Linked DNA regions of Homo sapiens. The protein of the gene in region 7 interacts with the protein of the main gene of each other region in a biochemical or structural test. Each region holds a gene or a part of one and is shown on either strand. Other genes may lie near its edges.

Region 1 (4,013 bases), on a different chromosome or scaffold from region 7:
TTAACTGTGTGAGTTGGATGAGCACAAAGAACAATGAACAAGGCACTAAACCCACATTGGTTTTGGCCACTTAAAAGGATAAACTGCAAACAGTACAAGCAGAGAAAGCTCTCTTGAAGTAAACAGCTAAAAATGCAAAATAAACATACCAGGCTAGTAGCAATACCTAGTGAGAAATGAGATGACACTTTGCAAGCAAACTTAGGGGGTCACAATCAACAGGTTCTAACAACAATTAATCAATCTACATTCTTCCAATGAGGAAGGACTATCGTAACACCATGAGAGATAGTAAAAATTCCCCATGTCATCTGATTGATATCTTGAATTTTATATACAAACACAAAAGTAAAATACAGTCATGCACCGCATAAGAACATTTCAGTCAATGGATACCACATATAAGAGGGTAGTCCCTGCCTGAGCATAGTGGCTCACGCCTGTAATCCCAGCACTTTGGGAGACTGAGGCAGGTGGATCATTTGAGGTCAGGAGTTCAAGACCAACCTGGCCAACGTGGTGAAACTCCATCTCTAATAAAAATGTAGAAATTAGCCATGTGTAGTGGTGTGTGCCTATAATCCCAGCTACTGGGAGGCTCAGGCAGGAGAATAGTTTGAACCCAGGAGGCAGAAGTTGCAGTGAGCTGAGATAGCGCCACTGCACTCCAGCCTGCGAGACACAGCGAGACTGCATTTCAAAAAAAAAAAAAAAGAGGGTGGTCTCATGAGATTATAATATAGTACTTTTGGTGTATCTTTGCTGTTTAGATACACAAGTACCACTGTGTTACAACTGCCTACAGTATTCCATACAATAACATACTGTACAGGTTTGTAGCCTAGGAGCAAAAGGCTATACCATATAGCCTAGGTGTGTATAGTAGGCTCTATTATCTAGCTTTGTCTAAGTGTATTCTACGATGTTCATGCAACAGTGAAATTGTCTAACAACTCATTTCTCAGAACATATCCCCATTGTTAAGCAACACATGACTGACTGTTACTAACTTGTGGTAGAAAGAAAAGGCCAATGGGGATTTTGTGCAGTTGAGAAGCAGGCTTCTGTATTTTATAAAACTTGTTAAAAATTAATTTGAGGCCGGGCACGGTGGCTCACGCCTGTAATCCCAGCACTTTGGGAGGCCGAGGCAGGTGGATCACGAGGTCAGGAGATCAAGACCATCCTGGCTAACACGGTGAAACCCTGATTCTACTAAAAATATCAAAAATTAGCCAGGCGTGGTGGTGGGCGCCTGTAGTCCCAGCTACTTGGGAGGCTGAGGCAGGAGAATGGCGTGAACCCGGGAGGCGGAGGTTGCAGTGAGCCAAAATTGCGCCACTGCACTCCAGCCTGGGCGACAGAGCAAGACTCCATCTCAAAAAAAAAAAAAAAAAATTAATTTGAAGAGCAATATGTAGAGCTCGCAGGTTTTTATTTTTTGCCAAATATTAGAAGGAAAAAATCTATCTACTATCTAGAATCACAACTTCATAAGAAAAAGGGCATTTTAACACAGAAAAAGGATGGATATAATTTAAAGGTGAATAAATTGTATAAACATTGATAACATTTCTATTTCATCATGAACTTCATGGTAAAAATTCTAACTCAAAGAGCAACATTTGGGAAGCTACTGACTTAGTGTTTTAAAGAAAATAAAAATATAGAATGTCAAAGAATAACAAAGCTATTAGAGATATTTAAAATAGAGACTTTAATGGGTGGTTTTATCATTCACTTTATGTTAACTATACACTAAAATCTCCACAACTTTATTAATCTTTAGTAATAGCTCATAACTTTTTCTAGTCTAGAAGCTTTTTTCAAAATAAAAAATTCTGAGTACTACCTCTCCCCATGATTGGATTTAAGCATTACTAAATGAAATGATAACACCATCATGACTTTTTTTTTTTTTTTTGAGATGGAGTTTCACTCACTGTCACCCAAGCTGGAGTGCAGTGGTATGATCTCGACTCACTGCAGCCTCTGCCTCTCATGTTCAAGTGATTCTCCTGCCTCAGCCTACCAAGTAGCTGGGACTACAGGTGCACACCACCATAGCCAGCTAACTTTTTTTTTTTTTTTTTTGAGACAGAGTCTCGCTCGTCGCCCAGGCTGGAGTGCAGTGGCAAGATCTCAGCTCACTGCAAGCTCCGCCTCCCGGGTTCACGCCATTCTCCTGCCTCAGCCTCCCGAGTAGCTGGGACTACAGACGCCCGCCACCACGCCTGGCTAATTTTTTGTATTTTTAGTAGAGACGGGGTTTCACCATGTTAGCCAAGATGGTCTCAATCTCCTGACCTCGTGATCCACCCGCCTTGGCCTCCCAAAGTGCTGGGATTACAGGTGTGAACCACTGCACCCAGCCAATTTTTTGTATTTTTAGTAGAGATGGGGTTTCACTATGTTGGCCAGGCTGGTCTTAAACTCCTGACCTCAGGTGATCCAGCTGCCTCAGACTCCCAAAGTGCTGGGATTACAGGCGTGAGCCACCACCACGCCCGGCCCATTATGACTTTTTAATAAATTTTATTATATATTACAAATATGCAAGAACTATTATTCATGCAACATTTAATGTACACATGGATTTCCAGACCCCTTGCAGAGATCTACAGCCCAATCCATTTCTCCAGGCACTCATCTCCTCCTACCACAAGTTTCTCACATTTTAGGCTGGACAATTCCTTTAGAGAAGGTATCAAATAGCTCGTTAAACCGGATTATCTTCAAAATCACTTCCAATCTTGAGATTATAAGATCCTGGGACAACGAGTACTTCTAAAAAGAATTTTGAGACTCCTAAAGAAATGATATCTTGACCAATATTTAGGTCCTCTACCTCCTGACACTCTTTTCAGACAACTATGAAGAAATTTAAAAGGTATAACCCCATAAGGAGGAGACAACAATGGAGGACAGGTGGCAACAAGTTTCTGTATAATGGAAAGCAGACAGTGGACTTCCAAGGTGAGATGGCAGATTGAACACACACACATCTAATTTTGCTTCCTCCCAAAACGTTACTAAAACAAGGATAAAGAAAGTTGTGTTATTGTTGTTTGTTCTGTTTTTAGGACACAAGCCATTATGACAGGGAGAATGAGACAATAGCAACAAAATTTTGGAAGCTGGAAAGCAGCTGGATAACTGACCTAGTCAAAGATGCCAAAATCTTTTTTTTTTTTTTTTTGTGACGGAGTGTCACTCTGTCGCCAGGCTGGAGGTGCAGTGGCGCAATCTCAGCTCACTGCTACCTCCACCTCCTGGGTTCAAGCAATCCTCCTGCCTCAGCCTCCTGAGTAGCTGGGACTACAGGCGCACGCCACCACGCACAGCTAATTTTTGTATTTTTAGTAGAGACGGGGTTTCACCATGTTGGCCAGGATGGTCTCGATCTCTTGACCTCATGATCTGCCTGCCTCAGCCTCCCAAAGGGCTGGGATTACAGGGGTGAGCCACTGCACCCCGCCAAAGATGGCCAAATTCTAAGCCAGCAATGCTGACAACTAAGAACAAACCGGTTTATGCCATAGATTCCTCAAAAGGCTCAGGAACTGCCAGAACAAAGAGTGGAAGGGGGACTAAAAGAAAGGAGCAAGTGAATGCTGAACAGTTAGAATCCCAGATTTCTTCCAAGCTGCTGAGTGGCCCCACCCTCAATGTGGCAGGTGACAGATTTCTCTTCTCAAGAGGGTAAACCATACAAGGTGGAAGACATAGGCATCCTAACAGAGACAGATTGTGTGAGCCCAATATACTAAATGTTCTTTGGCTCCTTACCCAACCCTCTTTTCCTGAGTTCCCAGATACTGACAACCAGACCTCAACTCTCCAAGCAGAAAACTGGAAGATACTCTCTGGAAAATATGACTGGGACAAAAGGAAAGATAAATACAGTGGAGACAGCCTCAAACAATCCACCCAGATCAATTATTTCAATCTTGGCTACACACTGGAATTATCTTGGCAGCTTTAAAAAATACTGGTGCTAATCTTCGGAGATA
Region 2 (4,013 bases), on a different chromosome or scaffold from region 7:
GCAGTGAGCCAAGATCACGCCACTGCACTGCAGCCTGAGCGAAAGAGGGAAACTGTCTCAAAAAAAAAAAAAAAAAACAAACAGAAGAACCAAGGTCTGAGAAATATCTCAGTAAATAGTAGCTACAAGTTTACCTTTTAAACCAGAGGAGATATGAAAGCAATCCATACTTTCTGGGACCTTGTGGGGCCAACAGGTGTTGACTGAGGTGAATTGACCTTCTTGAAGATAGTAGAGAGTGAGATGCTGTTTATTCTTTTTTTTTGAGATGGAGTCTTGCTCTGTTCAAGCAATTCTCCTGTCTCAGCCTCCTGAGCTGCTGGGATTACAGGTGCACACCACCGTGCCCGGGTAATTTTTGTATTTTTGTAGAGACGGAGTTTCACCATGTTGACCAGGCTGGTCTTTAACTCCTGACCTCAACTAATCTGCCCGCCTTGGCCTCCCAAAGTGCTGGGATTACAGGCGTGAGCCACCCTACCCAACTGAGATGCTGTTTATTCTAACATTTGTTCCACTGTGAACCTTGAGGTTAGATTTCAAGTATTCAAAGCAGTAGTTCCTAGAGATATCATAATTAGTAATTAAATTAAGATTTAATATTTGTTGATTTTATTTTGGTATTTTTCCACTTTTATCAGGGCATACCAATTCAATCACCATGAGTTGGAGCTTCCTGACTCGCCTGCTAGAGGAGATTCACAACCATTCCACATTTGTGGGGAAGATCTGGCTCACTGTTCTGATTGTCTTCCGGATCGTCCTTACAGCTGTAGGAGGAGAATCCATCTATTACGATGAGCAAAGCAAATTTGTGTGCAACACAGAACAGCCGGGCTGTGAGAATGTCTGTTATGATGCGTTTGCACCTCTCTCCCATGTACGCTTCTGGGTGTTCCAGATCATCCTGGTGGCAACTCCCTCTGTGATGTACCTGGGCTATGCTATCCACAAGATTGCCAAAATGGAGCACGGTGAAGCAGACAAGAAGGCAGCTCGGAGCAAGCCCTATGCAATGCGCTGGAAACAACACCGGGCTCTGGAAGAAACGGAGGAGGACAACGAAGAGGATCCTATGATGTATCCAGAGATGGAGTTAGAAAGTGATAAGGAAAATAAAGAGCAGAGCCAACCCAAACCTAAGCATGATGGCCGACGACGGATTCGGGAAGATGGGCTCATGAAAATCTATGTGCTGCAGTTGCTGGCAAGGACCGTGTTTGAGGTGGGTTTTCTGATAGGGCAGTATTTTCTGTATGGCTTCCAAGTCCACCCGTTTTATGTGTGCAGCAGACTTCCTTGTCCTCATAAGATAGACTGCTTTATTTCTAGACCCACTGAAAAGACCATCTTCCTTCTGATAATGTATGGTGTTACAGGCCTTTGCCTCTTGCTTAACATTTGGGAGATGCTTCATTTAGGGTTTGGGACCATTCGAGACTCACTAAACAGTAAAAGGAGGGAACTTGAGGATCCGGGTGCTTATAATTATCCTTTCACTTGGAATACACCATCTGCTCCCCCTGGCTATAACATTGCTGTCAAACCAGATCAAATCCAGTACACCGAACTGTCCAATGCTAAGATCGCCTACAAGCAAAACAAGGCCAACACAGCCCAGGAACAGCAGTATGGCAGCCATGAGGAGAACCTCCCAGCTGACCTGGAGGCTCTGCAGCGGGAGATCAGGATGGCTCAGGAACGCTTGGATCTGGCAGTTCAGGCCTACAGTCACCAAAACAACCCTCATGGTCCCCGGGAGAAGAAGGCCAAAGTGGGGTCCAAAGCTGGGTCCAACAAAAGCACTGCCAGTAGCAAATCAGGGGATGGGAAGACCTCCGTCTGGATTTAATCCTGGCGGGCTTAAAACCTGTGCTTTTCATAGTTTATGGTAAGCAGCAGCTCACTGAATAATGACTTCCATTGAGTAAACATTTGGCTCTGGTTATCTTCAGGGATGCTGTTGGCTCATGATCCAAGCTCAGGGGACTCTGGAGGCGGGGCTGGGCTGAGGGAGAGAAAGGGAAACACAGTGTTCCCAGGCACATGTTCTTAGCAATAATACAGTTGCAGAACTTTACATTTGTGTCTTCCAGATCTGGAGAAGAACAGACATATTTAAATCATTCTTGTTGAACAGTTTTTGTATGTACAGTATTATGGTACTTTTTTTTTTTTAGTATGAGAACTTTTTTTGTATTTGTACATTGAACTGCTGTAGTTATACTTTTATATTAAAGGGGAAAAAGTCCTTATAAATAATGCCTATTAGGCTAGTGCTATTACTTTGTTCAGCAAATTCTACCCTGGCTTTAGAGTTTTTAATAGATGCTACACCTAATAAAAGTGCCTCTCATATTGCAGGAACGATTTCAGATGTGTAAGGAGACTGAAGAGGAGATACCAGTTTTTAGTCTTGGAAAGCAAGTTCACAGTAGAAGGAGGTTGAGATCTTTCTTTTATGTGAGAAATCTTTGAATCTCATTCATGCGATCAGAGTTGTAGCCAATTTTTGAAAACCTTATTTTCAAAGGAAATAAATGATTCACTGTAGGATTCCTTTAAATATCAAGCATCACCAGTATATGCTTTGATGGTATATGTATATAACTTAAAGTTCTTTCAAAAGCCTGATACAGAAACGTGTCCCCAGTTTGGTAGCAATGTGGAAAACCTGGCTAGAGATGATATGGAGCTGTCCCTCAGAAAGCAAAGCCATGCCTGGAATCCCTAATAGGCTGCTTAGTTGTGAACCTGTTTGATTTGCCTTAAGCCTCTATCCAGAAACCTGCCCGCTTCCGTCTGGTTAAGAAGCCAGTGGTGGATATTTTCTTTGTTAACATTAGAAATGCAAACATTCCCTTGTCAACCAAGAATACTCAAAGCTACTTGTATTGGAAATGGCAGAAGGCCTAAATCCAAATTTCTTATTTTTTATAATTTACCATAGAAGTTTTGTGATTAAATTCTTACTTCTGCCAGTGGAGGTTTATGCCTGAAAGGTCATGGGGTCCTGTCTGTAAATAGACCTAAAGAGAAGTGCAGTATTTATTCTTTGTAGGCATAATGTGTTTGTCACTGACAAGCATTCATGTTCATCCCACTAGTCTTTTATTGCAGTCTTTTATTGTCATTTTCAGCCTTATGTTGGAGAGCTTTGCTTTCTCATCATGTTCACATTGTCTTAAGTTTTGTGAGCTTCTGAGAAAGAGCTTGGTAAAGGTTTAAAGGGGACTTTGTTCCACCAGGGAGCATTTTATTTGGGCGTCTCACCCTTTTCTAATGAAAGCTGTTGTAAGCCACCTCTGACTTGGAAATTCTGAAAGTATGAATATTTTTTATATCTTAATTGTAAAATGCCAGTTCTCCATTATTTAGATGAATAGTAGAACACTGCACCCTTTGTGCAGTGTTTTTGTTTCTCTACTGCATTCCTACCCCCACCAAAAAAAAGAAACTTAAGGAAATTTTTTTTTGAGACAGGGTCTCCCTCTTTCACCCAGGCTGGAGTGCAGCAGCATGATCTCAGCTCACTGCAGCCTCTGCCTCCCAGGCTCAAGCAATCATTCCACCTCAGCCTCTTGATTAGCTGGGACTACAGGCATGTGCCACCATACTCGGCTAATTCTGTTTTAAAAATTTTTTTTGTAGAGATGAGGTCTCACTATGTTACCCAGGCTGGTCTCGAACTTTTGGGTTCAAGTGATCCTCCCGCCTCAGCCTCTCAAAGTGTTAGTATTATAGGTGTGAGCCACCATGCCCAGCCTAGAAAATTTAACCTTATCTTTTAGCCATTCATTTACTTTTATTTGCTTTTTTAAAAAAAAATCTTTAAATTTTAGCCTAGAGAAGCACCTCAGGAACTCTAAACATCTTAGGCAAAAATTAAACTCAGGTGAGACTGAAGGAGAAATTTCAGAAATACACATGTACCTCATGGGTAATTAATAGACATGCACAGTTTCCTTCAAATCAAATGTTTAATAAGGAAATTCATATAATTCCAAGAAAAC
Region 3 (4,013 bases), on a different chromosome or scaffold from region 7:
CAGAACTGGGTGGAGTTTCTTAAGCTCCAGTCAGATTGGCTCAAGCAGGGCACCATGCAGTGGTGAATTTGTTTTCAGTCCCTCCCTTTGCCAAAAAGCTTTTTTTTTTTTTTTTAATAAACCTCAACCCAATTATAAATGAGAATACTTGATATATGAAATAATATGAAATGATAGTTGTTCATATTCACACTGAGGGTCTTAGGGGGTTTATTTATAGCTAACTGAAATGATGCAGCTGAATTACAAGTAGCTGATAGAATAATCAACCTCAGTAAACATTTAACATAACACTCTCATTTTACAGATTAGAGAACTCAGCCCTGAAAGGTGACTCATTCAAGGCCACAGTGAGTGTCAGATTAAACTGGTGCTTCAGTAAAGCATACAGACTTCTGTACCCAGCTTTCAAATTCTCTTGACTCTTACTCACAAATCTATTTAAAGTTAACTTTATTATCTGTATGGATAGAAGAGGAATAGTATAAATGGTCAATTGGTCAGTGAGAGGTTTTTTTTTTAGAGTAAATGCTTCTCATTCACAAGGGTTCATTTTTTGATCCTCCTGAACATCCAGATTTGAAAATAATAGTGTCATATCCTTTTATCCATAAAATATGTAACTAAGCATTTAAGGCATAACCGAATAGTAAGTAACTTCAAGTGATTCTGTGTGAGATGAAATTCATACATGAATTTATTAAAATTAATTTTGGAATACTTGAACCAGTTTAACATCTATAGAGCATTTAAAGAGTGTATTGTACTTATACATGTTTCAGAATAAAATAACTATAAAATTGGATAATCGCTTTAATTTATTGAAAACTGGGGATTTCTGGGAAAAAAAAAACAACAGTACTTTAACTTGAAAGATGACACTAGCATTACCTTTCTAGGATCATTTTCCATAAGGGGGTGTGTGTGTGTATTTTAAAATCATATTCTATTTATGTGGTGACAAGTAAAGAATAGCTTAACTGTTGATGAAATACAGATGCTAAGTGGCTAGCTAGATGTGCTCATAGCTTCATGACCTTCCCACTTTCCAATTGTATAATTTTCTATCAGTTTTACCCTCTTAGGCTGAATTTCAGCTACTGTTCATATTCCATGAACCACATGCAGCCCAGGAAGTCATCTGAGAGTGTGTGGCTGGGGGCGGGGTGGGGGTGCTGAGGGTTGGATAGGGGAAAGATTACAATGGATAAAAGCTGCCCTTTGATAATCTGCATTCTGATAAATGATATTTAAAATGTATTGGTGTTTTTGACTGTATTTTTACCCTGTGCCTTAAATGAGGAAAAGATTTGAGTAGATTGCATCTTATGTCATTATGTATTTCTGGGGAAAATTAAATTTTGGATTTTTATGGTATGTTGTTAAGGATGGCACAGATGTCCTTTTAAGTTCTCTTTGACCATGAAACTGATGCAGGATTTTTGCTCCTTAGCTCAACTAGGTCCAGGTTCTTATCTCAGGAGCGGAAGAATTAGGCACGTGGACATCAAAGAGTGAGTGGAGTAGAATCTATTAATCGAAAGGAAAGCTCTTAGCAAAAAGAGAGAACATGGTAGGTGGTTCTACTACCTGAAGACAGGAAAGTTCCGTAATATGGCTGAGCCTGGGGCTCTTTATTGGTTCAGAATGGGAGTGTGTGGTCATTGGTTTGTGAGTATGCAAAAAAGGTCAAAGCGAAGACACCACTCCAAGGTGGGCAGGACAGTGTAGAAAACCAATTAGGAAAGGGTAGGTACAGGTTAAATAGGTGAAGGATGGGGATCAATCATGCCAAACGGGAAGGCAGGTTCTTAATCCGATCTCAGGATTTACCCAGGACAGTTTCCGGATTAAAGTTCGGGTTTCACTGAGGACCCGCCCCTGTCTGCCTAGACATTTGTTTGCCTCTTGCCTCTATCAAAACTAGTTACAGACGTCCTTTTTAGTTTTTGGTTCATAACAGCTCCCAAAGGATAACTACTAATAATAGTTGTCAGAGATAGAATAGGGAAATGGCATAACCGAATAGTAAAAGCAACTGAATAGTTGCTTTTCATGGAACCCTTTGACATTATAATCTGTTAGGCTTTTAAAAGCTCTTTAATGAACTCATTTCTCAGCATTTTCCCTGTCATGATCTGGAGTTACAATAATACTTTATATGTAAAGTAGGCTGGACGAGCATAGAATAGGGCTTCCCACCCACATTCGTCTGTTGTAAATGGGTCACAGGTGTGCCACTACTACTATAGGAACTTTTTTTTTTTTTTTTGAGACGGAGTCTTGCTCTGTTACGTAGGCTGGAGTGCAGTGGCGTGATCTTGGCTCACTGCAGCCTCCACCTCCTGGGTTCAAGCAATTTTCCTGCCTCAGCCTCCTGAGTAGCTGGGATTACAGGTGCATACCATCTAAATAATAAAAATCAGTGCCCAGCTAGTTATTCTGTTTTTGTATTTTTAGTAGAGATAGGGTTTTACTGTGTTGGCCAGGCTGGTCTCAATCTCCTGGCTTCAAGTGATCCACCCGCCTTGGCCTCCCAAAGTGCTGGGAGATTACAGGCTGGGATTACCAAGTCCAGTTCCTACTATAGGAACCATTGAATTCCTATTTATGGTTCCTTCAGAAAAGCTGCTAAATCCTGAATTCGGCAGTGGTTATTCAAATAGTGGAATTTATAATTCCAGTAGTGTGAGATGGCATTTGCTGTGGACAACAGCTCTGTCATGCCACAGGAGCCCCTTTGGCAGCAAAGCTATCAGTTTTTGTCACGAGCCCCACACTACTTGTTTTAGTCAGGATTCTCTTAGAGGGACAGAACTAATAGGATATATCTCCAAAGGAGAGTTTATTAAGTATTGATTTACGTGATCACAAGGTCCCACAGTAGGCTGTCTGCAAGCTGAGAAGCAAGGAGAGCCAATCCGAGTCCCCAAAATGAAGAACTTGGAGTCCGATGTTCGAGGGCAGGAAGCATCCAGCACGGGAGAAAGATATAGGCTGGGAGGCTAGGCCCATCTCTTCATGTTTTTCTTCCTGCTCTATATTCGCTGGTGGCTGATTAGATGGTGCCCACCCAGTTAAGGGTGGGTCTGCCTTCCCCAGCCCACTGACTCAAATGTTAATCTCCTTTGGCAACACCCTCACAGATACACCCAGGATCAATATTGCATCCTTCAGTCCAATCAAGTTGACAGTATTAACATTACAAGTCCACTCCTTGTCAACTTGAACCCATATACATCTGAGATCGTATGTAATCTTAAAATAAAGACAATAATAAGGTCATAATTACACCTAATGTAATAAAACTATCCTTCATACAACCAGAAACACACCAATCCCCAACCCAAATACTATTACATAAAGTTAATAATACTTAAATGCTGTTATGAAATCAATAAATCTTATGTCACATGATAAAGGAAAAGGAAATATAAAGTGAAGATATTAGTACATGTGTATACATACACAAACATGTTTTTAACAAATGAAGGAGGAAATACTCATGGCAGTTACAGTCCTCATTTCTGCAGCTGGTCACGTGGTCATAGCTGGTATTGATGACTACCTTCTTCTACCCATTCTGTATTAACTTTGCCTTCCCCAAATACCTCAGCAGGTCATGGGTTTTTTTCCTGGTGGAGTGATCCAAACCTTCATTCCTGAATGGTCCGGATCATTTGTAGTCCTGCCTGGATTTGGCTGTTGTGGTTTTGCATTGACAGTAATCACAGGGCATGGTAATACGAAGAGATGCCCTAATGGGTCTCATGTATTCCATGCATACTCTTCCTTACTTCCGTTGTGAAGTTGTAGACTGATTTCATCTTGATAGTCTGGGTCAGTCACCTTAGCCAACACTGTAACTCCCCCTCTGAGCCTGTTGACTTAAAGGGAGGAGGAGCCCAAAGTGTCCAGGTGACAATCTTAACTTCCAGTTTAATGGAATCATTGTTGTGTCTCCTGGTGGCAGCATTCTTCCCTCTGGAATTAAGACCTCTAGGCCAGCAGAA
Region 4 (4,013 bases), about 74 Mb from region 7:
GCAGGAGACTCACTTGATCCCAGGAGGCGGAGGTTGCAATGAGCCGAGATCATGCCACTGCATTCTAGCTTAGGCAACAAGAGCAAACTCCGTCTCAAAAATAATAATAAATAATAAATAGTTTAACTATAAAATTAATTGTACATATCATTTTTAGGATTCTGTGACTTAACTGACTTTTTTGGTTTCCAATCAACTACTCTATCAGGCCACTTCAGATAAAGAGCTTCTGTTCTGCATATAATTTTTAAATAAGGCCAGGTGCAGTGGCTCATGCCTGTAATCCCAGCACTTTGGGAGGCCAAGGAAGGTGGATTGCTTAAGCCCAGAGTTCAAGATCAGCCTGGGCAACATGGCAAAACCTCATCTCTACAAAAAATACAGAAACTAGCCAGACTCGGCAGTACATGCCTGTAGTCCCAGCTACCCAGGAGGCTGAGGTGGGAGGATCATCTGAGTCTGGGGAGGTCAAGGCTGCAGTGAGTCATGATTGTGCCACTGCACTCTAGCATAGGTGACAGAATGAGACCCTGTCTCAAAAAAAGTAACAATAATTTTTTAACAACCAATTAAAAATTATGCTATTAAAAAAACACTAATTCTATATGGACTAAAGAATAAATATTATCTAAAAGTAAATAAAATGACCTATACCAAAAAGAAAACACTGCTTAAAACTGCCAATTCAGCATTCCAAAGGGTTACACTTTCAGAATCTTACAATTCAGCCTGCATTCCTTTTCCCTATGTAACACCTCTTTTCTATTCAGAGGGCAGGACATGCAGCAGGCAAAATCAACTGCAGTGGTGATAGCTTGTTTTTGGCCAGAGTGATTTTTATCCATACAAGGAAGATGTCCTTGGATCATTAATATAACTACTTCAAGAAAACCAACCTAAATTGTTTAAAGCACTCTATTAACAACAAAAAGCATAATTTACATCCAATGAAAAGTAATCCACTCCACTGTGGCCTCAGCCAGGCTCAGCAATATCCAGGAATTTCTGAAAAAAGCTTTCTCTTGTCCATGCTGAGCCTGACTTTAGGTCCTAAGTTAAATTCAATTCTACATACTAACCATCTCAATTACATTCAAACCTCCTAAAATTCTTATTATGGATACAGTAACCCATATTCTAGGAAATACAAAAGAAACTCAGATGGAAGAATGTTATTTTTCCATTATGTTCATCATATTTGTTTCAATCATCCTTTCCTTGCCTCTAAACACCCCCAATGCCTAAAAGCCTACTGTATCTTCTAACACTCTATATAGTTTGGTTTCCTCCTCTCTGTTCTGTTCTAAACCAGAGAAGTTCCTCCCTATTCAACTAATTCTCCATTTCAAAGTATTTTTATGAAGCTCCAGCCAAGAAATAGCTAGGAAAGCAATATGATTTGTCCAAGTCTATATTTCACCCAGAGAGAGGAGGCTCTAACTTCGTATCTTAAACTAGAAGTTGCAAAGTGAAGCCTCAGGAACTACATTCAGCCAGCAGATGCTTTTTGTTTGGCCTGCAGTGTTTAAAAAGAACATTATTGCCAATATTTAAAAATCAGAGATTTCATGTAAAAAATCTGGGTCCTCATCAATTATTGGAATATTTAGTAACATCAGGCCAGTATACCCACAAGGAATTAACTGGAGCTAATTAGCGGCTATCCACTTTATATGAGGTATGTGCTCTTCAGTTCAACATAGTTTCCATTACTTCACCTTCAAACTATATCCAGAACCCAACCATTCCACACCACTTCACTGTTATCTCCTTAGTTCTAACTGACATCACCTCTCACCTGGATTATTACAAATTACCTCTTAACGGAACTCTTTGCTTTCTTCCATTCTCCCTTTGGGGATATACTCTTAATATAATGGCCAGAGTGATCCTGTTAAAAGCCTAAGTTATTCATTTATTTAACAACATTTATTGAGCACCCTTATATACCAGCCACAGTTTTAGTGCTTGGAATCCATCAATGAGCAAAAAGCAAAAGCCCTGCCATTGTGGAGGTCCATTCCTTTGCCCATGGACCAAATCTGGGAAATTTGAGCATCAAAATAAATAATTATAGTGAATTATAACCTGAGTAAAATAAAAATCTATGAATCCATACAATAATAAACAAAGGAGAAAGAAACACTCTTCATTATGGTATAATGCCAATTAATAAATAAAGATAAAGTTTGAAAACCACTATTCTGCCAGCCTGGGCAATAAAGCAAGAACCTAGCTCTACAAAAAAAAAAAATTTTTTTTTAATTAGCCAGGCATGGTGGTGGGCACCTGTAGTCCCAGCTACTCAGGCGGCTGAGATGGGAAGATCACTTGAGTCCAGGATATCAAGACTGCAGTGAGCCATTATTGTGCCACTACACTCTAGCCTGGGTGATAGAATAAGACTCTATTTCTTTAAAAAAAAAAAAAAATTTTAAGGCTGGGCACAGTGGCGCCTGTAATCCCAGCACTTTGGGAAACCAGGCAGGAGGTTCAGCCCAGGAGTTTGAGACCAGCCTGGGCAATGTAGCAAGACCCCATGTCTACAAAAAATAAAAAATTAGCCAAGCATGGTGGTGCATGCCTGTAGTTCCAGCTACACGGGAAGCTGAGGTGGGAGGATCACTTGAGCATGGGAGGACGAGGCTGCAGTGAGCCATGAAGGCACCACTTAACTCCAACCTGGGCAGCAGAGTGAGACCCTGTCTCAAAAGGAAAAAGAAAAGAAAAAGAAAATCACCTTTTTGCTACTATTCTTGAAATAACTGATTCAGAATAGAATCATCAATAAATGCTAAACTATTAGGCATCCATAAACTGCAAATATAATTCAAAAAATAAAAACTAAAAAAAAAATGGTTAGGCAAAACTTTAAAGAAGAACAGAATAATTAGTTTCAAAGTATCTCCCCATGACTTACATGTTAATTACCAAGGGAAAAATTATAACTTTCCAGTTAAGAAACCACAGACACCATCTTAACCAAGTAAGCAGATTAGTATCACCAAAAATGAGACAAAATGACATCATATGCCTGCCTCCTGTAATCATGAAAACTGACAGTATGTGCCTCCTAATATAATGCACTGAGAGAAGCACATCACTTCTATGGTATTTTAGGCAAAAATTTATAATCTGAATCTAATCATGAAAACATCAGACAAAACCAAATTAAGGGACAGTCTATAAAATAACTTGCTTGTACTCTTCAAAAATGTCTATGTCATGAAAGACAAAAGCTGAGAAACTCACAACTAAAAGCAATGCATGATATGGCACTAGATCCTGAATAAGGAATTTTTTTAAATTATCATAACAGACATTATCGGGTACCAGAGAAACTTTAATATAGTATTGTCTCAATGTTAGGTTTTCCAAATTTGATCAATGATAGTTATTTAAGAGAATGTTTTTATTCTTAGGAAATAAACACATGAGAATTTAGGAGTCACAATAACTCTCAATGGTTCAGTTATGTTCACACACAGAGATCATAATAAAGCAAATGTGGCAAAATGTTAACAATTGGTGAATTTGGGATAGGTTATACAAGAGTCCTTTGAATACCCCTCGCGAATCTTCCGTAGCTAGAAATTATTTTAAAATAAAAAGTAAAAAAAATTGAAAACTCTGATGGCTATCTAAGAGCCATTTAAGAGTAAAAGCCAAAGTCCTTACAATGGCCTACAAGATTCTATACCATCTGGCCTCCAGTTAAGTCTCTAACACCATCTCCTACTATACTCCCGCTCATTCACTCCATTCCATCCACCCAGCTTCTGGTTCTTGAATACACGAAGCACATTCTTGTCTTAGACCGTTTATACTTCCTGTGCCCTTTGCCTGGAATACTTTTCCTACAGATATTAACAGGTCACTCAGGGATGCCTACCTAACCACCCTATTACAAACTGGAACTTCTCTTCCCCAAATACTATCCCTTTCCCTGTTTTATTTTTCTTTATAACCCTTATTAAGTACCTTACAAACTACATATTTTATATATTTATTTA
Region 5 (4,476 bases), on a different chromosome or scaffold from region 7:
GGGGCGGGAGCCCCTAGTTCCAACACTGAGGACGCGTGACATGGTGGGCACCGGAAAGGAGGGGACTTCTCCTGCACCCCAAGAAGTGGTGGGGAGATTGCTGCCCCTATAGCCATATCTCGGCCCCTTCCCACTCACCACCCCCACCCCAGGTGCTGGGGGTCCCTTATTTTTATGCAATAACTGAGCTTGATGGGGGTGGGCAGGGGGCCAGTTGAGCCAAGCCCCCAGCCCCGATCTGCAGATCCTGCCCCAAGAAGCTGGGGTGGTGGGGGCAGTAATTCCTGCCCCCCTCTCTGCCCTAGGGATGGGCACGGGGGCGCTGGTGAGGTCCCCTGGACCATCCAGGGTGCTAGGGGGCAGGGAGGGGACACCCCCTCCCCGCCTTTACCTCACTTCCAATGCTGCCTTGATCTCTGTCTGGGAGGGGGGAGTGAAGGGGCCCTAGCCCCCTGCACTCCGCCGCCTCAGAGCCATGCGGTTAATTCCTGACTTAGTTTATTTTTGCAAAACGTCGATCTCCTCCTCCCCCGCCCCGCATCCGCGAAGGCTTTTAATGGGAGGGGCGTCAAAGCTCAAAACTGTTTTCCTCTCTCCTCCCCCCTCCAGTTGTAAATGCCACTTCATGAGGGGAGGGGCGAGGGGAAGCCCACCCCTGCATGCTTCTGGCTGGAGCACCTCCCTGGGGAGTCGGGGGATTGGGTTGTGGGCAGTCCCCATGGCCGCCTGGAGAAGCCGCTGGGGCCCGGGGGTGTGGGGCGGTGTGGCGGGCGCACACTGTATGTACCTATAATAAACCCTTTGGCTTTGACGGTCTATGGTCCTTTGTTTGGGTTTTCTGGGCTGCGCCCGGGAGGATTGAAAGGAGGGCTGTGGTGGCTGTAGGGGTGGGTGCGGGGTGGGGAGAGGGGCACGGGGGTACCGTGGCTGCGGAGAACATCCAGATGTACCCTTTTATGTGGACTTAATTTCGGGGTCTAAACACACGCCCCTTGACGAGAACCTAGAGGGATGGAGAATATTTCGTTATGCTTCGTAATAAACTTCCCCAAAGGAGACTCCGGGTCCGCCCCGTCAAGTTCAGGAAAGGCGGACCCCTTTAAGGAGGCGGAAAAGTTAACCGCGATGGGCAGGCGCTCTGTCCAATCGCTAGTGACTCCTGGAGTCTCTGGCCCAATGAGCAGCCTATGGAGGCGGGGTCCGGGTGCACACCCGGAAGTGGGTGCGGGCCAGCCGGCTCGCCCGGGGGCCATGGCAGCAGCGGCTACTGCAGCCGAGGGGGTCCCCAGTCGGGGGCCTCCCGGGGAAGTCATTCATCTGAATGTGGGAGGCAAGAGGTGAGTGTGGGAGACTCCTGAGGTCCCATCCTCGGGGGCGGGAAGCGGGGTGGGAGTATCCGCCTCTCCTGGGGGAATCCCTGTCCATCAAGGGTTGCTCCGCCCCCCCCCCCTTTGGAGGCGCGAGATTCTGGAAAAACGCCGGGGGAGGGGGAAGGGGAGGGAACCCTGGATCCTGCGGGAGGGGGACGCATTCCTCACCCGCTCCTCTTCATCTCTTGCGTCCGTTTACCTTCCCCGCCCAGATTCAGTACCTCTCGCCAGACTCTCACCTGGATCCCAGACTCCTTCTTCTCCAGGTGATCGGGAGAGCGAGTTTGGGGCGAGGGTAGGAGGGATGGAGAGGGCGTGGGAGACCTAATATCCACTCCCCCGGCCCGTGACGCCTGCTCGGTGTCCCTTCCCTGCAGTCTTCTGAGCGGACGCATCTCGACGCTGAAAGATGAGACCGGAGCAGTGAGTCGGACAAGAACTGAAATGGGATGGGGGGGAGGGGTTGGTAGGAAGAGGGGCAGGACCCCACTCAGTCCTGCCTTTTACCCCATCCATCCTCTGCCCCCCTTTCCCGCAGATCTTCATCGACAGGGACCCTACAGTCTTCGCCCCCATCCTCAACTTCCTGCGCACCAAAGAGTTGGATCCCAGGTTGGCATGGAAAAAGGGGAGGGAGTCCCTCACTGTCTTCAGTCCCTGAGGAGTTCTTTCACCTCCTCTGAATGTCCACGTGAGCTCCATTCTATTAGAATTCTCATTCAGAACCTTGATCACAGGCCGGGCGCGCCGGGATTGCTCACGCCTGTAATCCCAACACTTTGGGAGGCCGAGGTGGGAGGATCACTTGAGCCCAGGATTTGGAGACTAGCCTGGGCAACATAGCGAGACCCCTTCTCTAAAAAAGCAAACAGGCAAAACTTCATGAGAATCTTGATCATGTTAAAATTTTATGTCCTTCGATTTCTCCCTACACACACACACACACACACACACACACACACACACACACACACTCAACATTTCCTCCACCCATATCATCACTCCTTAGCATCTTTATTCCATCAAAACTTTCTACCCCTTGACATTCTCTGTGCAGTTTTGAAAATTACCCTCTCAGCATTCTCTGTTCACCCCCACACCTAGACCCTGACCTCTAGTCAATTCTACTACCCAGGGGTGTCCACGGTTCCAGCCTCCTCCATGAAGCCCAGTTCTATGGGCTCACTCCTCTGGGTAAGTGGGAGCCCCCAGCTATCATCCTCATTGTATAGAAAACCAACTCTGTGATGCTACCTGCCCCTCTTCCCCTTCTCTCCTGAAAGAGGGCTGGGGTAGAGGTGGGAGGACTGGTTATGGCCCTGGCCGGGTCTGTATTCGTACTGGGAGGAGTATTGGTACTCTGTGTAGAAAGAAATGGGGAGGGGGAAATGGGGTGGCCTCAGCATCTCCCTAAGTCCCAGCCTTTAAGTCCTCCTGTTGCAGTTCGTCGCCTGCAGCTTCGAGAGGAGTTGGATCGATCTTCTTGTGGAAACGTCCTCTTCAATGGTTACCTGCCGCCACCAGGTAGGCACTCCCAATGGAATGGAGGGGCGCGGAGGTGGGCCAAAGACTACATTTCCCATAAGGCTGCAGCTCTCGGGTGCCTGTGCTGTGCGTCCTGAGATACAGTGGGAGGTGTAGTTCCCTATCAGATGCTTGGGCTGATGCTTGGAAAGGAAGTTGGACACAGCATTTCCCATGAGACAATGGGCCAGCTAACTCTTGAGGCTCAGAAGGATGTCCTGGAGCCCCATGGGAGTTGTAGTCCGGGTTTGGTTTCTTTGTAGGGGGGGCTTTGGAAGACCTGGGATTCTTCGTATGGAGGGGAGAAATATTAATAGGAAGTTATTGACAGTAATGCCCATGATAGCCAGCCCACTGGCCATGGAAGGTATGCCCCAGTGGTTATTGGAACTAGGCTTTTCTGATTGGTAGAAGTAACAGAGTAGGGAAATTTCATCTACAGCTTTATTTCCCTAACTGCAGTCAGCACCTGCTACCTTCATGAAAGTTGCCAGATATAAAGATCTGTAGTAGTACTTTTCCAACTTAGTTTTATCCTGTTTTCCGAAAAACAATCATTTATTTATTTATTTATTTATTTAATTTTATGAGACAGGGTCTGGCTTTGTCACCCAGGCTGGAGTGCAGTGGTGCGATCTTGGCTCACTGCAACCTCTGCCTCTCAGATTCAAGCCATCCTTCCACCTCAGCTCTGCCACTGAGTAGCTGAGACTACAAGCACTCGCCACCATGCCCGGCTAATTAAAAAAATAATAATCATTTTAAATGCAAGCTTTATATTATAAATACAAAGTAAACATGAAAATAAAACCCAAACATAGCAGTGTTATTAAACTCTGGCCTGTAGCAGTGGCTCACACCTGTAATCCTAGCAGTTTGGAGGCCGAGACAGGTGGATTACTTGAGACCTGGAGTTTGAGACCAGCCCAGGTGACACAGCAAGACCTCATCTCTACTAAAAATAAAAAAAAATTAGCCAGGTGTGGTGGTATGCACCTGTGGTCCCAGCTACTTAGGATGCTGGAGTGCGAGGATCGCTTGAGCCCAGGAGGTCAAGGCTGCAGTGAACTATGATCACTCATTACACCCCAGCCTGGGTGACAGAGCGAGATGCTGTCTCAAAACAAAACAAAACGAAAAACAACTCTGGCTAGATGCTATTGCTTGCCAAGGGTGCAGTCTTCCATTTATTAAAAGTGAAAATTAGGGCCAGGCACATTGGCTCATGCCTGTAATCCCAGCACTTTGGGAGGCTGAGGTGGGTGGATCACCTGAGGTCAGGAGTTCGAGACCAGCCTGGCCAACATGGTGAAACCTTATCTCTGCCAAAAATATAAAAGATTAGCCATGTGTCGTGGTGGGTGCTTGTAATCTCAGCTACTTGGGAGGCTGAGGCAGGAGAATCACTTGAACCCAGGAGGCAGAGGTTGCAGTGAGCCAAGATTGTGCCATTGCACTCCAGCCTGTGCAACGAGCGAAACTCCAACTCAAAAAAAAAAAAAAAAAAAAAAACGGAAAATTAGGTAATACTGCAGATTCATTAATATCACAGCAGCACTAAACTCAGTCTTCCTCTGTGCTG
Region 6 (4,013 bases), on a different chromosome or scaffold from region 7:
AGCCACTTGGAGGGTATAAGAGGTCCCATGGCTGCCGTAACGGAGGACCACAGGCTTGGTGGCTTAAACAACAGAAATGGATTTTCTCACAGTCCTGGAGGTTGGAAGTGTCATCAGGGCTGGTTCCTCCTGAGGGCTGGGAGGGAGCCTCTGTTCCTTACCTCTCCCCTTGTTCCTTGTGGTTGCTGGCCATCTTCCTTAGCTTGTAGAAACATCACCCTCCTCTCTGCCTTCATCTTTACTTGGTGTTGTCCCATTTTTTATGGTCTTTTCTGAGATAAACACTTTTGAACGGTACAGGTTATTTTTGCAAGATGCCTCTCAATTTGGGTCAGTTTGGATCAATTTGGATCAATTTGGATTTGTCTAAAATTTTTCATCATACTTTGACTTAGGTTACATATTTTTGGCAAGATATAGGTAATGTAATGTGGTCACAGGATGACAATTTTCATTGGCGTAAGTTTGACCGTTTGGTGAAGGTGGCATACCCTGAATTTATCCAACATAAAAGTACCTTTTTTGACTTTATAATTAATATGTAGCCAATAGATATTGTGGGAATATCCTGTTTACCCACAACCTTTCACCTAATACAATTTTTTAAAAAAACTTTTATTTTAGGTTCAGGGTTACACATACTGGTTTGTTGTATAGGCAAACTCATGTCACAGGGGATTGTTGTACAAATTATTTTATGACCTATGTACTAAGCCTAGTACCCATTAGTTATTTTTCCTGCTTCTCTCCCTCCTCCCACCCTCCACCCTCAGATAGACCCCAGTGTGTGTTGTTCCCCTCTATGTATCCTTGTGTTCTCATCATTCAGCTCCCACTTATAAGTGAGAACATGCGGTATTTGGTTTTCTGTTCCTACATTAGTTTGCTAAGGATAATGACCTCCAGCTCCATCCACGTCCTTGCAAAGGAGATGATTTTGTTCTTTTTTTACCTACTAACTTTTACATTCATTGATAAATCATTGCCTGAATCAATTACTTCTATGGTGATTGTAAAGAGTGATTTCCTGCTTCCATTATTCTTTCCATATCTCTTAATTGGCTTTCTTTTGTTAAACAAAAGACTTCCCTCCCCTTTCTTCCTTTTCTTTTTTTTTCCTCACAGTTTTAGTAGGGACTCAATTTTGTCCAATACATTCTAATCTATTCCTGTCATTTTTCGTTTTGACACCCAGATTGCTCCAGACTTGGTCAGTTGGTGTCCCTCCAAGCTGGTGCTGGTGTCCTTCCGACATCCCCCTATTAGTTTTTGAGCACCTGGACCAGTAAGGTGTTCCAGTCTCACTTTGCACTTCCCTGTCTCCACCTGGAATCAGTCATTTCTCCAGAGAACCAACCTTAAATATCATAAGTTAGTCTACTTAAATATGATAAAGTATGGTCCAAACTTTGAAAGAGAAGATTTTAAAAAAATCCATTAGCACCAAATGGAATAAAATGGACTGGTTAAAGCATATATCTTAACGAGGTAACGATGCAGCAGGAGCTCTGGCCTGATTGATGGTACCTTAGAGAGATAGATTTTAGAGACTGGCTTGCTTGCAAATGTTTTCTTTTGTAGTGGAAGGGAAAGAGAGCACTTAATTTCCCTTGGTCAGGTTAAATTCACTGAATTCTTCTTAGTCCAGAACTAGTGCCTTAACGATGGTAGCTGGAGGCATGGCTGCTGGAGAGGGAGGCTCAGTGGGTGCTTGCAATGAGTCTAGCTTTATTGGATTCATTTGGAACAGGGTAATTTGTTTCTAAATTATTCATCAAGATCCAGTGCAGCTGGTGGCTGGCTGCATGTTGTGTGTTTTAGGTAAGTTTTATTAGCTGAAGACCTCATTGCAGCCTTGGTTGGCGGAGCTGGTGACCAGACGAGGCTGTAAGGAGAACAGCCAGGTTTCCAGAGAGCCAAGTGTTAATGGGGCTGTGCCCATTCAGGCTTCTTCAGGAATCATATAAACATCCATTTTTCCACCCATTTCCTAAAAGTGCAAAGCATTTGTTTTCATTTCTGAAATGATCCCTGCAAGTCGTTGAAACAGGAATGACGTCAGCTTTGGAAGCTTATCCAGTCAGGGCAAGTCACAGGGTTGTATGAAGTACTTCCTGGTTTATAGTTCAAAAGGTTTCTTTAGAGAAAAACATACTGGGAGGGCTGACATTCATTTCAGATCTGTTTTTTAGAAATTGATTTTCTTAACTACAGAAATGATACAAACCTCGAGCATTGCAGACGTATCCAAAACTGGAGAGTGAGGCCGTCTCACCCTGTCTTGGGAGAAGCACTGTCAGAGCCATCTGCCCCTCGGGGTGGTTTTCTTTGTGCACTTATTTGTGTGTAGGTTGTGAAATGGTTAAAATGAAGTAATGTTTTTAGGACACATGAGCACCTTGTGGAATGTAGTGATTCCTGGTTATAACCTTACTGTTTTGAGAAATGGCAATTTTGGGTGCAGAGAAGAGTAGTAGAAGTGACAGTCCTAGGCCTTTGCCCTGGCACTGATGGTGCAACTTTGGGCAAGTCAGCAAACTTCAGGGCTCAGTTTTCTCACCTGTAAAGTGGGTAGGAGAAGAATAGAGAAGTCCTCTCTCCCGGCTGTGGATCAGAGACAGCAGAGGAGCCTTCTTTATAAATATGCTGAGGCTCAGCCTCCTCCTGGGGGTTTTGTTTCATTGGTTTTTGTGGAGCCTGGGAATTGCAATTGTAAAAAAAGTTCCCAAGTTACTCTAATGGGCAGCCAGGATTGGGGGCTACTGAACTGAAAAAAAAAATCTCTAAGGCCTAGCCTTCCCCTCCAGCCCGATCAAGTGCTATGTCTACACAGACTTGGACATTAGACAGCCTGGGTTCCAATCCCAGCTCACACAATCACTAGCCGTGTGTCTTCTGGGCAAATTACTTACCCTCTCTGAGCCTCAGTTTTAGAACGGTCCTTGCTCCAGAGCACATAGGACTGGAAAGGGAGTGATTGTCATTCACACTATTGATTCGGAGATCTCTTGTGTCGCCTCTAGTGGGCACAGGGATATGCTTTGCACATGATAGTGGTGACATTTGGTATTAATATGTACTTGGCACGTGTTGGTGGTGACATTTTATATTAATCCATTTGGTTTTAAGAAATTCTATACCTTTTTAAAACTCTATGCATTCCTTTGAGAGCATCTGGGAAATGCTATTTTCCTTTTCTTCACAGATGGGAAAAGGACAATCTCCAAGTGGAGGTTAAAGCACATGGTAAAGTCAGTAATGAGGCCCTAACAAGCACACAGTGGTGTGAAGGAGTGCAGGGAGAAAGGCAAGCAGTGTTGACCTTGGAGCTAATCTTCCTTAGTCACTATGTGTGGGTTACTCAGGTATAGTATACTCATCCTCTCCAGCAAACCTGCCATTCACCTGAGCCAGACACACCCACACCCTCCATAGGGTACAAGGCACAGACCAGCACCCCACTGTAGACTTTATGCAAATACATTTATGTCATACCTGGGCCATATTTTCCTCAGAAGGATTATTCTACATTGGAGACAACACATGGCAGGATGGAAAGATATGAGCCAGTGGCCCTGTGGCTTCCTGTTCTGGGCTCCCTGTGCCATTTACTTAGTCACTCTGTCCTGAGCGTCTTGTCTGCATGATGAAAAGATTGGATTATGGATGACATCATTCCAAGAGTCTGTGTTTTCTGTCCACTGTCAGATTTTTGGTTTGTCAATAATATATGGCTATGATCTATTTTTCAGTATACAGTAAATGCACTCTTTTTAAAAAAATTAGCTCCATACTAAACAAAAATATACATGCATGTGTGTATACCTATGTGTATAGATATAAAATATATATTATATATGATAAATTTTAAATGGTTATGAAAATAAGAAAGGTCTATCTTTGTAGCCCCAGCACTAAATCATGCCTCTTGCTGACTCGTACACTACACTTTGAGCTCCAGTGGATTAAAGGGAGACTTCAGCTTAAGTCTCACCCAGGCATAAAACTTGGAA
Region 7 (4,013 bases):
ATGACTATTTTATGGGGATGACACAACAGCAAAAGAAAAAGAAACAAAGAAAGAAAGAGAGAGAAAAGAAAAGAAAAGAAAAAAAGAAGAGAGAAAAGAAAAGAGAGAGAACTTGTGTTTAGAGGCAGAGTATCTGATGGCCTCTTAATAACCCCGACCTGGTTTCAGCCCCTATCTCTCTCTTCAATTTTTTCTTCATTTGTTAGCTTTACCTCAACACCCACCCACCCTGCCCCACAGAGAATTCTGCTTCTCTCACTGTTTCAAGACAGTGCAATATACTCCACAAGAGTTGAAAAAGGTGCAGTATTAAATCTTGACTCCACTACTTACTAGCTGAGGAATCAGGGCTCATTAACATCTCTGAGCCTCAGCTTCTTCATCTGTAAAATGGGGATCATCAGAGTACCTACCTCAAGCAATGCCTGTGAGACATAAAAGCCAGTGGGTATGAAAGCCCCTCAAGGCCCGCAAAGTGCCACAAAGACATGAATTTTCTCTCCTTCATCACAGTGGCTTTTTCTCTTTCCCTTTGTCTCTTCCTCATTACCCATAGGGCTTTTCATTCTTGGACATGGAAGTAAAAATTAGTTTAAGATGCTGAATTCACAGCAATTATGTCATGCCCACCTCCACGGGTTTCCCCACAGGCTTCCTGGGTATTACACAGTACCTGATTGCCACAAGGTCTTGAGAATTGGGGTGGCCCGGACATAAGGGATGCTGCCATTGCTGTCTACCAACACTACTGCTCTGAACCAGAACCAGAACCAGTGCCTTTCATAGAAAAGTAAACCAAGAAGTGATGGATAGACAGAGATAGAGAACTCTTGAACAAAATTAATCAAAGCTATGCTTTGCCCTAGTTGTCTGAATCGCAATCATACACACTGACATCAAATATCTTATTAAAGATTTGCCTTTAGAACGTTCCATCAGAATGATTTGCAAAGCCATTGGGAAGAGATTTTTATGGGAACTTGATGTGCTCTATTTATTTAGAGAAAACGATGCTTTCCAAAGTTAAATGACCATATTGACAGAAACACAAAATAGAACCTACCGTTGGCCTCATCACTCATCCTGTTTCCCATGACTGAAATCAGAATGCAAATTTGTTGACATCTTTCTTTATGTTAAGCACTCAATGGGGCACTGGAGACATGGTGATGAATAAAACTCAGTTCTCGCCTTTATGAAACTCCCAGCCTAATAAGGAGGTCCAAGAGTTACCTGACATTTAAAGCTTTTGTTATCCCATGGTCAGAATTCTTCCCTTGCACATTAATTGTTGAAGATTTCCCCTGTAAAGTTATAGTCTAAAATTGCAATGTTAGTCTACGATGCTTCTATCATTAAAACTATACTTTCTCCCCAAGAATTTTTACACTTCTTTAATTGACCCACAGCATTTTCCTGATGAAGTAATACTAAACTAAAACCTTGAATGCGTATACCCTCTACATCGCTCAGGCTTTAGATAACTGGGGGTTAGTAATCAATCACCTTCATGTTTTTTGGCCTAGGCTCTGTACATTTCAGTAGTTTATTCAAAGGGAATCATTCTTTTCCTGAGTACAAGAAATAGTGAATCTGACTCCTCACTGACCAAACCCCTGACCAATGTGGCAGAGTCCCCTGAACACTTCTGGGGTGGCCATGGGTACATACCACTTAGGAGGAGCATCAAGGTCCACTCTCTGTACCCTTAAGAAGTAGCTTGGCATGGTGGCGCCATTCTGAGCCCAGGCCCTCCTTGGGACTGAGATAAGATATGACTTCAGCCTGAGGCCATTTCTCACACTTGAAAAAGTAAGACACTCCTATCCCCATCCCATTCCAGCTACCCAGCCTCCAAGGAAGTCATCCAACTTCGCAGCTATACCCACATATTGCTCAATTTCCCCAAATCAGTCTCATTATCAAAACAGTCGATCATATTAACTCTTCTTATGAAATTACCTCTCTTTCTGTGGTGCTGTGGCTGTTGAAGGAGGAAAACCTGGCATTGATAGACTATGAATGTGCTTCAGGGGTGGGTGGTGAGGATATACAGCAAAGGTGAATTGCCCTTTGGTTTCAGAAGTTACCTCATATTCCACTTCTGCTCCACTATTTCTTCTAGTAGACAGAAAGTTCTTTTCAACAGCCCTAACCTATTGCTGTTCCAAAGGTTAGTCAATGCAAAAAAAAATGCAGACACTTCCGGGTTTGCAGGTGAAATTGAGCTAATCCTCTGACCAATTAATTCATCAATTATATAAAATAGATGATTGAAAAAATAAATGGCAAAAACCAATTTACTTTCTATGGTTATTTGTTGACTTGAGGTCCACCCTGAGTCAGAAGGCTTGTAGCAGATGACATTGGAGGGGCTGACATTTTACTACTGTGTCTTCCTTAGTTCTCTATCTGAAGTTTCAACGCACAGTTTAGCAGCAATTATAACCAATGATGTAGGACACACCTCAATTTTTGATCTTCATTAATTGACCCACAGCATTTTCCTGACGAATTAATATTAGAGTAAAACCCTGAGTGTCCTGATGAAGTTTTTATATCATAAATGAAATAAGCATATACTTGCTTTTGAACAGTGTGCTTCTTGGGGAAATAAAATAGAAGATGAAATAAAAGGTACAGCAATTCTGATTATGTAGCAGCCATCTATTGAATTGGACCCTTTCCTTGAACTAAATGGCTTCCTTTTAAGTAGTAATGCTTGGTGTAGAGGCCATGGCATTCCATTCTCAATGCCAGACAGAAAGAAGTCTCACAGGTCATTGCCCTGCAGCAAATAGCTAGCAACCAGTTATTACTTAGAGTTATGACTGTGAAAATCTGATACTAAAATGGTGCTAAAGAGTTTTATGAGGATGAAGTTATTTTTGAATGGTTCAAGGAGAAAGAGCAAGGAGAATTAACTCTGAGCTGTGTCTGTTTCCTGTGTTTCAGAGCAGGGCTTGTCTCTGTAATATATGACTGTTAGTTCACTGTGGTTTTCTTTCCTTCTCTTCTCAGGAGGACAAGAAGACCTCATTCTTTCCTATGAGCCTGTTACAAGGCAGGAAAGTAAGTTTCCCAGCACGCTTTCATTCCTAATTTCTGGGCCATAAGAGGTGACATCATTGAAGGAGGGAAAGAGTGAAGGACTAAGGAGAATAAACTCGGCTTAATGCTCTGTTGTCTTGAGACCGTACCTTACTCTTACGCTGTCTCTCACTTTCTCTCTCTTTGACCCTATCACCAAACAGACAACTTCCTGCTGAGTATGGGCACTAATAGCACCTAAGAGAAGGATGCAGCCCTCCAGATGAGTGGTCCTCAATGGGAAGGAACACATTCAAATTACCTAAAGAGCACTAGCTACGAGACTGGTGAATAAATTCTCCTGAGAGACTGATGTCAGCTCAGTATTGAGAATGACTTTCTAGCAGATCTGCCTAAGATGTAGGCTATCTGTAAGCTGCTGCTTTTTCCTGGAGGCATTTATACAGAGGCTAATTGCTACTGACAAGGATACTGCAGAGAGAATTCAAGCATCAGATGGGGACTTGTACCCAATGAACTCTCAGGTTCCTTCTAATCCCAGATACAAGGAAATCTAGAAACTGTAGCAAAGTATAGAGAGTATTTTGATCTGGGGAAAAGAAATCATGAAAACATAAGATGTTATTACTACTAACAATTACTTTTTATAGTCATATCTAAACAATAGCCAAACAGCTGGTTTGGATTCTTTTTTCTCCCACTCAGTTGACTAAATTCAGTTGTTTTGACATTATGTAGGCAGAGCCAGAGAGTAAGCAAAACTCCTCCAAATGTTTCTTTTCATCAACAGATACTGCAATTGCCTTTCCCTGCTAGTAGATTCCAGAAAGTAGGCACTGCCAATCTCCTGAGTGTTAAACATCAATTTCCCTATGCAAGGCTGTATGAGTAATTTATCCAGTGAAGTAATGCCCTTAGCATCTCTTACTGTCTGGCAATTAAGAATCACCCTTGCAGGACAG

Evidence for each region.
Region 1: the proteins of DLG2 (region 7) and EVI5 interact in a test that uses a peptide from one of them, tested with the Homo sapiens proteins (one large-scale study listed by IntAct).
Region 2: the proteins of DLG2 (region 7) and GJC1 interact in a test that uses a peptide from one of them, tested with the Homo sapiens proteins (one large-scale study listed by IntAct).
Region 3: the proteins of DLG2 (region 7) and MAP4 interact in a test that uses a peptide from one of them, tested with the Homo sapiens proteins (one large-scale study listed by IntAct).
Region 4: the proteins of DLG2 (region 7) and DENND5A interact in a test that uses a peptide from one of them, tested with the Homo sapiens proteins (one large-scale study listed by IntAct).
Region 5: the proteins of DLG2 (region 7) and SHKBP1 interact in a test that uses a peptide from one of them, tested with the Homo sapiens proteins (one large-scale study listed by IntAct).
Region 6: the proteins of DLG2 (region 7) and IGSF5 interact in a test that uses a peptide from one of them, tested with the Homo sapiens proteins (one large-scale study listed by IntAct).

Annotation. Positions count from the first base shown.
Region 1 is NC_000001.11:92,774,728-92,778,740, forward strand, and holds part of EVI5 (ecotropic viral integration site 5 protein homolog), read right to left. Parts: intron 1-4,013. UniProt on the Homo sapiens protein: Functions as a regulator of cell cycle progression by stabilizing the FBXO5 protein and promoting cyclin-A accumulation during interphase. May play a role in cytokinesis.
Region 2 is NC_000017.11:44,802,466-44,806,478, reverse strand, and holds part of GJC1 (gap junction gamma-1 protein), read left to right. Parts: intron 1-641; 5' UTR 642-661; coding exon 662-1,852; 3' UTR 1,853-4,013. UniProt on the Homo sapiens protein: One gap junction consists of a cluster of closely packed pairs of transmembrane channels, the connexons, through which materials of low MW diffuse from one cell to a neighboring cell.
Region 3 is NC_000003.12:48,009,812-48,013,824, reverse strand, and holds part of MAP4 (microtubule-associated protein 4), read left to right. Parts: intron 1-307; exon of another isoform or gene 308-350; intron 351-4,013. UniProt on the Homo sapiens protein: Non-neuronal microtubule-associated protein. Promotes microtubule assembly.
Region 4 is NC_000011.10:9,198,961-9,202,973, forward strand, and holds part of DENND5A (DENN domain-containing protein 5A), read right to left. Parts: intron 1-4,013.
Region 5 is NC_000019.10:40,575,649-40,580,124, forward strand, and holds the start of SHKBP1 (SH3KBP1-binding protein 1), read left to right. Parts: upstream 1-1,224; 5' UTR 1,225-1,251; coding exon 1,252-1,337; intron 1,338-1,582; coding exon 1,583-1,636; intron 1,637-1,747; coding exon 1,748-1,793; intron 1,794-1,908; coding exon 1,909-1,982; intron 1,983-2,474; exon of another isoform or gene 2,475-2,505; coding exon 2,506-2,564; intron 2,565-2,813; coding exon 2,814-2,894; intron 2,895-4,476.
Region 6 is NC_000021.9:39,772,371-39,776,383, forward strand, and holds part of IGSF5 (immunoglobulin superfamily member 5), read left to right. Parts: intron 1-4,013. UniProt on the Homo sapiens protein: Provides, together with MAGI1, an adhesion machinery at tight junctions, which may regulate the permeability of kidney glomerulus and small intestinal epithelial cells. Mediates calcium-independent homophilic cell adhesion.
Region 7 is NC_000011.10:83,471,786-83,475,798, reverse strand, and holds part of DLG2 (disks large homolog 2), read left to right. Parts: intron 1-3,021; coding exon 3,022-3,072; intron 3,073-4,013. UniProt on the Homo sapiens protein: Required for perception of chronic pain through NMDA receptor signaling. Regulates surface expression of NMDA receptors in dorsal horn neurons of the spinal cord.